Linked DNA regions of Homo sapiens: regions 1, 3 and 4 are each linked to region 2. The links come from fine-mapping of genetic effects on gene expression. A gene starts in region 2. Each other region holds a variant in brackets. All regions are shown on one strand. Distances are between the middles of the regions.

Region 1 (2,685 bases), 65 kb before region 2:
CACCTGTAGTCCCAGCTACTTGGGATGCTGGGCGGGGGTGGGATGGGGGGATTGCTTGAGCCTAGGAGTTTGAGGATTCAATGAGCTGTGATTGTGTCACTGCACTCCAGCCTGGGTGACAGAGTGAAACCCTGTCACAAAAAAGACATAAAGGAAAGACCTGTTAAAAGGAAATGATAGATATTAAGTTAGGATAGCTGAAAGAGTACAAATTCCCTTAAGTGGAATACCAAGGATTGGGGGGATTTAGTCAGCAAAAATTAAGATTAGACAAAGGTTAGGGAGTTTGAAGAAAAGCCTATAAACAGGGAAGAGAGCAAGCAAGGTTGTTAGTATCAAAAGGTTAAAGAAGTCCGGGCAAGGTGGTTCACACCTGTAACCCCAGCACTTTGGGAGGCCAAGGCAGATGGATCACCTGAGGTCGGGAGTTTGAAACCAGCCTGGCCAACATGGCAAAACCCCCTCTCTACTAAAAATACAAAAATTAGCTGGACATGATGGTGCGTGCCTATAATCCCAGCTGCTCGGGAGGCTGAGGCAGGAGAATCCCTTGAACCCAGGAGGCGGAGGTTGTGGTGAGCTGAGATTGCACCACTGCACTCCAGCCTGGGCGACAGAGAGAGATTCCATCTCAAAAAAAAAAAAAAAAGAAAGAAAAAAGAGAAAAAAGGTTGAAGAGATCCAAGAACAAAAGGTTTTAAGGAGAATAGATGTCAGAGATATAGCAAATAGTGATATACAGGTTAAAAAGATGGAACATATGAGAAAATGAAGTAGCAGAGAAGAACTATGAGGGGACTTTAAAAAACTCATTAAAAATGTGTATTATGAAAAAAACTCCATGGATTTCAATTTTTTTGCACCAAAATAAACTCATACTAACTTTCTATACACGTCTGAACATGATCTAGTTTGAGGCACTAAGAGGGGTAAGGGGTAAGTCATCAATCTGAAAAGAGCCCCTAGAAGAGCAACATGAATCCTGCTAAAATTAAAGCAAAAACAAACATCAAATTTATGGTGAAGCTTGGGTGAAATAATGGTGAACTCACTGATGTACTTAAAACTTTACGGGGAAAATGCCCCCAAAGAAATCAGCGGTTTACAAATGGTTAACTCCTTTTAAGAAGGGACAAGTCGGCCGGGCATGGTGGCTCACGCCTGTAATCCCAGCACTTTAGGAGGCTGAGGCAGGCGGATCACGAGGTAAGGAGATCGAGACCATCCTGGCTAACACGGTGAAACCCCATCTCTATTAAAAATACAAAAAGTCAGCCGGGCGTGGTGGCAGGCACCTGTAGACCCAGCTACTCGGGAGGCTGAGGCAGGAGAATGGTGTGAACCCAGGAGGCGGAGCTTGCAGTGAGCTGATATCGTGCCACTGCACTCCAGCCTGGGCGACAGAGCGAGACTCTGTCTCAAAAAAAAAAAAAAAAAGGACAAGTCGATGTTGAAGATGAAATCCACAGCGGCAAACAATCAACAACAATATCTGAGGAAAAGATTAATCTTGGTCGTGCCCTAACAGAAGATGATTGCTGATTAACAGCAGAAACAATAACCAATACCAGACATCTTGATTGGTTCAGCTTACAAAATTATGACTGAAAAATTAAAGTTGAGCAAACTTTCCCCTTGATAGGTGTCAAAACCATTG[T/A]GCCCAGATAAGCCGTAGACAACAGCAGAGCTTCCAATGAAAATTTTAAACCAGAGGGATCAAGATCCTGAAGTATTTCTTCAAGGAATTGTAAAAGGAGATGAAACATGGCTTTCCCAGTATGATCCTAAAGACAAAGTACAATCGAAGCAAAAGTGGACTGGTCAGGAGGAAAGGTAATGACTAAAAAGTTTTTGGGGATGCTCAAGGTATTATTCTTGTTGACCTTCTAGAGGGCCAAAGAATGATAACACCTGCTTATTATGAGAGTGTTTTGAGAAAGTCAGCCAAAGCTTTAGCAGAAAAAAGCCTGAGAGAGCTTTACCAGAGAGTCTTTCTCCACCACAATGTTTCTGTTCATTCTGCTCATCAAACAAGAGCAATTTTGCAAGAGAATCAATAGGAAATCATTAGGTATCCACCTTACAGTTCTGATTTGGCCATCTTGTGACTTCTTTTTGTTTCCTAATCTTAAAAAAACAACCTGTAAAGGGCATCTAGTTTTCTTCAGTTAATATCATGAAAAAGACTGCGCTGACATGGTTAAATTCCCAGGACCCTCAGTTCTTTAGGGATAGACAATGGCTGGTAGTATCACTTACAAAAGTGTCTTGACCTTGATGGAGCTTATGTTGAGAAATCAAGTTTATATATTTATTATCTTTCATATATTTTATTGTCTTTTGATTCCACTTTTCCACAAACTTTTAAAATTTCCCCTGTATATGATGAATTCTAGCAGAAGGCAGGAAATAAGATGGTATATCAGAGGCAGGGAAGAAGTAAAAAAAACAGTAAGATCAAAAACAGTAAGACAGTATATGTTGCCTCAGACTGGAAGGAGAAAGTTATTAAGCTGGTTAGGTGGTTTGGCAAAATACTGGGAATGGGGGACTTAAATGAGAAAATGGATAAATGTAAAAAATAAAATTATAAAGCCAAAGAAAGTCTTTCAAGATGTCATGTGGAAAAATAAAAAAAAATGAGAAAAGATATAGAAAAAACGAGTGCAATAACAAATGGACATT
Region 2 (2,685 bases):
GGTCACGGTCCCAGTGAAGTTTGTGCATTATACTTACTGTTTTCAGTAGCTGCAGAGAGACCTCTAGCGCTGCCTCAATAAGCCGAGTTTGCAAATAGTACCTGCTAATGTCACCTTAATGAGACAATGGCAACATGCTGAGTAGCAACTAACTGAGTGACCGCGATGAATGTTTAGTTTTGCAACCACTTGGAAATTCTACTAGCTTGGAGCAAGAGGTATGTAAGAGAATTATGAACCTGTGTATCCAATTTATTTTAGTAAAACGTGTCAAAGAAATTATCACCCTATGCACACCCCACTCCAAGAAAGGCTAAGAAAACAAGTCCTATGAGCGGAGGTCGGAGCAACCTCTTTTCCGAAGCCTGAACACAATAGATGGCAAACTATTGTCCACCTTCAGCTCGCTCCAAATGCCAGCAGTTGCAGGAGTATGAGCTGCAACAGCTCGGCACGACTAGTCCAAAGACGAGCACTGGAATATAAGAAAATGGTCCTGGCGCATCCTACCCTCCCCCATCGATCACCCTCAAACAAGTCAGTTACCCGGCTGGTCCCCACCCCCCTCTGCGGGCCGCCACCGCCCGCCTGGGCCCGGCTCGCAGAAGGTAGGAGCCCGGACCGGCAGAGCCGAGGCTCCATGTGAGCCGCGCGGGAGGCGCAGAGGGGGCTGCACCGGACGGAAGGTTGCACCGGTGGCGGGCGCAAGCAGCGGCCGCCCCCTCGGCTGTGCGGTCGGAGGGCCCGGGCGGCAGCATCCCCGTTCATCCGGGCGGCCCTGGCCCGCGGACCCCGCCTCAGCTCCACATCCCCTCCTCGCCGACACCAGGCCGCGCCCGCGTGACGGGGCCGAAAACGCCGGCATTTCCCGGTCGCCGCGCCGGCAGCTCCGGGGGGTGACTGCAGCCCGGCCGGCGTCTCGCCGCCCGCTCCGCCCAGCCCGGGGCCGCGGTGACGGGAGGCGGCGGCCAACTCCGGCCGACCACAAGCCGACGAGAACCAGCCCGGCGCCGGCCCCCCGCCCCTCCCCGCGTCGCCGGGCCGGCGCGGCCAGGCGGGCCCAGACCGCGGAAGCACACTCACTTCCACATCGCGGCCCTTGTTCTTGAAGCTCTTGATGCGGTGGTTCTCCAAGCTGGGGTTCTCGGCCATGGCTGCGCGCGGCTCCGGCGGCGGCTACTCCTGCGGCTGCGGCGGCGGCGGCGGCGAATCTTGGAGCGGGAGGGGGAGGAGGGGGAGAGCGGGAGGGGGGAGGGGAGAGAAGAGCACGTTCTGTGACGCCTCCGAGCGCGAGGTGGCAGTAGCGCCGGGGGAGGCGCGGGCCGACTGCCGGGCCGGGTGGGGCGGGAACGGTGCTGAGAGCGGCGCGCGGCCGCGGAGGCTGGCGACACGTGACCGGGGGCGGTGACCGGCTTGGGCGTTCGCCGGGCTATACGTGCCCGTTGGTTCTCGGGATGACCCTGCCCTCTTCCCCTGCAAGGGCTCTCCACAACCCCTCGGTGCTGCAAGTTTTGTGCCAGAAATGGAGCCGGACCTGGCGACTTTTACTGCCCCTCAGGCGCGGGGCGGCGGTCGTCAACTACAGTTCCCATCATGCCACGATCCGCCTGGAGTAATTCTCCACGCCTAGTGAGAACGAGGAGAATGCCGGGACCCTTCCGCGCGCGGCTCTTTGCGCGCCGCGCTCATGTTGCTGGGCACAAAGCTCCGCCCCCACAAGGCCGCCTCTGGGCGGGGAAGAGCGGGGGAGCGTCCCTGGCACCTTGCGCCCTATCAGGAGGAAGAGGGCGGGCCTTCCTGGGAGCGCACCTCGCTGCCTGTAGCTAGAAGATCAGAAAAGGAACAACCGCGAGTGCTTTGCAGTCTCGCTTTTTTGGGGGTCTTCTCAAATAGCCACCTTCATTCGCTCTTCCCATGCTCTGCTTCAGTTTTATAAATAGCATTTCTACCTGACATGTACATGTGTATGTATGTGATACGAGTGTTTATATGCGTTACCTAGGTGCCCGCGCGGAAATTCAGCTCAATGAGAGCAGGTACTTTGGTTGAATTACTGCTGAATCTCTAGTGTCAAAACAATGCCTACCACGTCGTAGATACGCAATACTTGTTGAACTGGCGCTTTAGTGTCGCCCAGTTTCTTCATCATCCTTCCAAGCCCGGTTCTGCAACCTTCACTCTGGCAGTCCCTGTATTTACATGCCCCCCAACACTTCTTGTTCTACCACCACACAGAATCTTAGCCTTCAGGCAGCAGCCCAGCCCTGGTCCGCAGACTCTCCTGTGTAGCACTCCCACTCCCTCTGGGGGCATCGAAAGAATGAAAGAGGGAAATTTGGATGGATTACACTGATAAAGAGCTGCTTTCGGCCGGGTGTGGTGGCTCACGCCTGTAATCCCAGCACTTTGGGAGGCCGAGGAGGGCAGATCACAAGGTCAAGAGACCGAGACCAGTCTGGCCAACCATGGCCCGCATGGTGAAACCCCTTCTTTACTAAATATACAAAAATTAGCTGGGCGTGGTGGCGCATGCCTGGAGGCTGAGGCAGGAGAATCGCTTGAACCCGGTAGGCGGAGGTTGCAGCGAGCCGAGATGGCGCCACTGCACTCCAGCCTGGCGACAGAGGGAGACTCTGTCTCAAACAAAACAACAAAAACAACAACAACAAAAACAAAAAGCTACTT
Region 3 (2,685 bases), 66 kb after region 2:
AGTTCAAGTAGAATCAGCTCAATGGGTGGGAAAAAGAAAAAAGAATCAGTTCCTATAAAAAAGGACAGCATAGTTGCTAGAACCCTCTAGAGATGTACAGATATTAGATAGTTTTGGCAGGAAGTGGTGGCCAAAATACATGAAACAACAACCTGAAAAAATAAGAGTTAATCAGGGATTACAGCAGGGATGAAAACAAACAAGCCAAAAAGCCACAGCAACAACAAAAACAGGTGGAAGATAACAGGAAAATCTAATCTTCACTGCCCATGGGCTGGAATGTAATGTTTTGGCTATGTTTTTCTTCTTCTTTTTTTTTTTTTTTTTTTTGAGACGGAGTTTCGCTCTGTCACCCAGGCTGGAGTGCAGTGGCGCGATCTTGGCTCACTGCAAGCTCCGCCTCCTGGGTTCACGCCATTCTCCTGCCTCAGCCTCCCGAGTAGCTGGGACTACAGGCGTCCGCCAACACGCCCGGCTAGTTTTTTGTATTTTTAGTAGAAATGGGATTTCACCGTGTTATCCAGGATGGTCTCGATCTCCTGACCTCGTGATCTGCCCACCTCGGCCCCCCAAAGTGCTGGGATTACAGGCGTGAGCCACCGCGCCCGGCCTTGGCTATGTTTTTCTTGGTAAACATCTCTACTATCTGCTTTTGAAATGATGGAGCTACCTTTCAGTTTTAAAAACAATATATTTCAGGCATCTCAAGTAATCCACAATCTGGAGGCAAAAGTCAAGACTGAGTTGACAGAGCACAAATCTGTTTCATTTGACTACATTAAAGAGGTTTGCATTCTTTCAAGGGCTTACTAGCGAGTTGTTCAGAAGCAGTACTGACACGGGGGCCTGGGATTGTTGAGGGATGCTTATGCACAGAGAGGAAGGTTTGCTAATCCAGGAGCACTGAATCATCATGATGTAAACTTGCAGGACTTCATGGCTTCAGTGATACATCATTGATCTTTAATTCCAGTCCACAGAACTTTTTTTTATGGTAAGGAAAAGGATATGGGAAGAAAAAAGTATTATAAGCATGTTTCTCATATTTCTTCCCTCTTTTACCCTATAAATAAAAGAGCAAAGGTATTACTGAGCAAATGTTCTCTTGAAAAACTTGATTTCTTCTTATGCTTGGAAATTTTGCTATAGAGATAGTCATTGCTACTGTTTACAGTAGACA[T/C]TCCAACCCTGAAAACTAAACTCTGAAGTATTTACTATGCTTAGATAAATCACATATTTGTCCTCATGAGTACAGCCTGTTCAGGTTTGTACATACCATTGCGTAATTCCCTAAGAACTCTTTCCAATTTAAAAGGATGACTTTGGACACCTTTGTGGAAGTTGATAGGAAAGATTTTTGCTCTTTAAAATACTTGTTAAATAGGCCAGTTAAAAGTATGCTTTGTACTGAATTTTGCCTTTATCAGTAAAGGCTCCAAGAATGTTGATAAAATAAGAGAAAAAGAAATTGGGCTTTTCTCCTGCCAGAATTGGAAGGGAGAGACCCAAAACTAAGAACGGAAAATCTGTCATAATAATGGCAGAATCCTCAAAAGAAGATACACAAATAAATGCAGCTGAGGAACCTGGAGACTTCCCTGGTTTCTGTCCCTTGTGAGACTTCAAATCATAAAATACCCTAATATCTTTCTGTAATCTTCTGTCATGTTCTAAAATGTCTAAAATATTGAAACAGTCCTTATTATCAGAAAAAAGTAATCATGAACAGAGCCCAGAATATGGTATAAAACATTACCTTACTGTTCTCATCATGTCATTGTTCAGTCCTACCTCCAAACAATGTCCCATGAGAAAACCCAGAAGACATCTCCCTCACTAAAGCATTGAGAAATGCATTAATAAATGGAGCACCTGCAACCTCTTTCAAAGGAGAGCTCTGTGGTTGCTCTCTTCTATAGGGTAGGTGGAAAATATGCCATTGACATGGTCTCCCCAATTTCAATGATGGGATGATGGGATCTCAGAGTGGCATAGGTAGGGGTGGCACTGAATCTCCAAGGACAAAGTAAATGCATCCACTGTAAAGGGCAATCAGAATGCTTTGGCCTGCAGACATATTTGATGGTGGTTAAGTTATGGTGTTCTTAGGAATGAAATAGATGGGCAATCTACCATTGTATTGCTTGATCTGTAACAGAGGGAAAAATTCTAGGTCTGGTAGCTAAAAACCTGATGAGTCACTGCAGTGGACAGTCATGGCCTCTTGTGTTGAGATCTAAGTCAATTCACAGAGCCAAAGCTCCTTGATTAAAGAGGAGGCTGGGAGCCAGGCACAGTGGCCCATGCCATCCCAGTGAGTCAGGAGGCTGAAGCAAGAGGATTGATTGCTTGAAGCCAGGAGTTTGACCTCAGACCCTACGAAAAAATTAATCTAAAATGTCGGGGCGCGGTGGCCCATGCCTCTAATCCGAGCACTTTGGGAGGCACAGGTGGGCAGATCACAAGGTCAGGAGTTTAAGACCAGCCTGGCCAACATGGTGAAACCCTGTCTCTCTAAAAATACAAAAATTAGCTGGGGATGGTGGCATGTGCATGTAATCCCAGCCACTTGGGAGGCTGAGGCAGGATAATTGCTTGAACTGGGACCCGGGAGGCGGAGGTTGCAGTGAGCCAAGATTGCACCACTGCACTCCAGCCTGGGCTACAGAGGGAGACACCATCTCA
Region 4 (2,685 bases), 32 kb before region 2:
TAGTCTAGCTCAGCTGTTCCCAAACTTTTTGGCACCAGGGACTAGTTTCACAGAAGACAATTTTTCCATGGACTAGGAAGTAGAAGGAGTGGTTTCAGGATGATTCAAGTGCATGACATTTATTGTGCACTTTATTTCCATTATTATTATATTGTAATATGAAATAATTACACAACTCACCATAATGTAGAATCAATGGGAGGCCTGAGCTTGTTTTCCTGCAACTAGAGGTCCCATCTGGGGATGATGGGAGATGGTGACAGATCATCAGGCATTAGATTCTCATAAGGAACATGCACCTAGATCACTCGCATGCACAGTTCACAGCAGGGTTTGTGCTCCTTTGAGAATCAAATGCAGCTGCTGATCTGACAGGAAGTGGAGCTCGGGTGGTAATACAAGCAATGAGGAGCAGCTGTAAATACAGATGAAGCTTCACTTGCTTGCCTGCTGCCTACCTCCTACTGTGCAGCCCAGTTCCTAATGGGCCACGGACTGGTAGTGGTCCAGGGTTGGGGATCCCTGGTCTAGCTTAAAGAAGGAGTGATAGATTATCACCATTTTACAAATCCTAGTAAATAACAGACTTAGACAATGTTCCTCAGTGGTGATGTCAACATAACAGAAAGAGACAGCCAGACACTACGTGCCTTTCTGATGGAAGAGAAAACCATCACATATGATGCAGTCATGTTCCCAATTCCCCCAAATCATCTGAATCTGATAAAGCCTCCAGCTTCAACTTTGAATTTACAGGAAATACAGAGGGCCAATACACATGTCAAGTGACATGATAAGATGTAAAATCCAGCCGGGCACGGTGGCTCATGCCTGTAAACCCAGCAATCCAAGAAGACTGCTTGAGCTCAGGAGTTCAAGACCAGCCTGGGCAACATGATGAAATCCCATCTCTACCAAAAATACAAAAAACAACTCAGCCAGGAATGGTGGTACATGCCTGTGATTCCAACTACCCAGGAGACTGAGGTGGGAGGACTGCTTGAGCCCAGGAGGCAGAGGTTGCAGTGAGCCAAGATCACACCACTGCACTCCAGCCTGGGTGACAGAGTGAGATCCCATCTCAAAAAAAAAAAAAAAAAAGCAAAATTCAGATTATGAGAACCTC[C/T]ATGAACCCAGTTTCTCCAACAATAAAGTGCATAAAAAAGACAAAGATGGTGAGATTAAGAGACCATAAATTAAAAAGGAGACTTTGAGTTCACATCAATCAATCAATCGCAATGTGTGGACCTTGTAATAGTTGATTCCAGGTGTCAACCTGACTGGATTAAGGGATACCCAGATAGCTGGTGAAAGCATTAATTATCCTCAGTGGTTCAGACAGCACTGAGCTCGTCCCTCTTCTGCTGAAAGGAAAACCCGGGCGGTCAGGCATTTGATTAGAATGACTGGGCTGTCCCAGTGCCTGTGAGGGTATTTCCTGAAGAGACTGGCATTTGAGTTAGTAGACTGATAGGGGAAGTTTCACTCTCAATGTGGGTGGGCAGCATTCAATAAGCTGGGGCCCAGATGGAACAAAAAGAGGAGGCAAGAGTAATTCTTGCTGTCAGAACTCCAGATTCTATGGTCTTCGGATTCCAGGACTTGCACCAGCACTGCTGCCCTTTCCCCCCATGATCACGTTGGCAAGTGTGATAATGGTATCGTGTTTTTAAAAAGAATTCCTATATTTTAAATAACATACATATTCTTAATAACAAAAAAGTAGGACAAAAACAGTATATGTTACTTCTGAAAGACGTCATACTTTGGGAGGTCACCTGTTCTACAACAACTGGATCCTGGCTATTAACAGAAAAAAATATTTTTTAATGCAGTGCTGATGTCATATAAGTAGTAGAGAAGAGGGTCCCTCTCCCTCTCCCTCTCCCCACGGTCTCCCTCTCCCTCTCCCCACAGTCTCCCTCTCCCTCTCCCCACGGTCTCCCTCTAATGGCGAGCCGAAGCTGGACTGTACTGCTGCCATCTCGGCTCACTGCAACCTCCCTGCCTGATTCTCCCGCCTCAGCCTGCCGAGTGCCTGCGATTGCAGGCGCACACCGCCACGCCTGACTGGTTTTCGTATTTTTTTGGTGGAGACGGGGTTTCGCTGTGTTGGCCGGGCTGGTCTCCAGCTCCTAACCGCGAGTGATCTGCCAGCCTCGGCCTCCCGAGGTGCCAGGATTGCAGACGGAGTCTCGTTCACTCAGTGCTCAATGTTGCCCAGGCTGGAGTGCAGTGGCATGATCTCGGCTAGCTACAACCTCCACCTCCCAGCCGCCTGCCTTGGCCTCCCAAAGTGCCGAGATTGCAGCCTCTGCCCAGCCGCCACCCCGTCTGGGAAGTGAGGAGCGTCTCTGCCTGGCCGCCCATCGTCTGGGATGTGAGGAGCCCCTCTGCCCGGCTGCCCAGTCTGGGAAGTGAGGAGCGCCTCTTCCCGGCTGCCATCCCGTCTAGGAAGCGAGGAGCATCTCTGCCCGGCCGCCCATCGTCTGAGATGTGGGGAGCGCCTCTGCCCAGACGCCCCGTCTGGGATGTGAGGAGCGCCTCTGCCCAGCCACGACTCCGTCTGTGAGGTGAGGAGCGTCTCTGCCCAGCCACCCCGTCTGAGAAGTGAGGAGCCCCTCCACCCGGCAGCCGCCCCATCTGAGAAGTGAGGAGCCCCTCCGCCCAGCAGCCGCCCCGTCT

Which allele goes with the higher level. Positions count from the first base shown, and alleles are read on the strand shown. Sizes are in standard deviations (SD) of each study's normalised expression. Not every link is listed here.
As copies of C replace T in region 3, the expression in fibroblasts of the gene that starts at base 1,328 in region 2 goes down (small effect, 0.25 SD a copy in GTEx).

Evidence for each region.
Region 1: its variant is fine-mapped to the expression of KPNA3 in whole blood (TOPMed, PIP above 0.99). The same link has a PIP of 0.9 or more in blood mononuclear cells.
Region 3: its variant is fine-mapped to the expression of KPNA3 in fibroblasts (GTEx, PIP above 0.99).
Region 4: its variant is fine-mapped to the expression of KPNA3 in whole blood (INTERVAL, PIP 0.91).

The regions. Positions count from the first base shown.
Region 1 is chr13:49,726,815-49,729,499 of GRCh38, forward strand. The region is part of intron 6 of KPNA3 (karyopherin subunit alpha 3); the gene reads right to left. Among named protein-coding and RNA genes, the nearest start is that of EBPL, 37 kb to the left of the region's middle. The variant T/A (reference allele first, on the strand shown) is at 1,658.
Region 2 is chr13:49,791,355-49,794,039 of GRCh38, forward strand. It overlaps KPNA3 (karyopherin subunit alpha 3), which reads right to left and starts at 1,328. Exons shown (of 17, transcript NM_002267.4): 1 at 1,084-1,328. The coding sequence starts at 1,152. RefSeq lists enhancers at 1-362, 367-1,028, 1,029-1,690, 1,494-1,623 and silencers at 484-1,053, 1,174-1,423.
Region 3 is chr13:49,857,484-49,860,168 of GRCh38, forward strand. No RefSeq gene overlaps it. Among named protein-coding and RNA genes, the nearest start is that of KPNA3, 66 kb to the left of the region's middle. The variant T/C (reference allele first, on the strand shown) is at 1,181.
Region 4 is chr13:49,759,332-49,762,016 of GRCh38, forward strand. All of the region lies in intron 1 of KPNA3 (karyopherin subunit alpha 3), which reads right to left. Among named protein-coding and RNA genes, the nearest start is that of KPNA3, 32 kb to the right of the region's middle. RefSeq lists a silencer at 277-346 and enhancers at 1,435-2,155, 2,156-2,685. The variant C/T (reference allele first, on the strand shown) is at 1,127.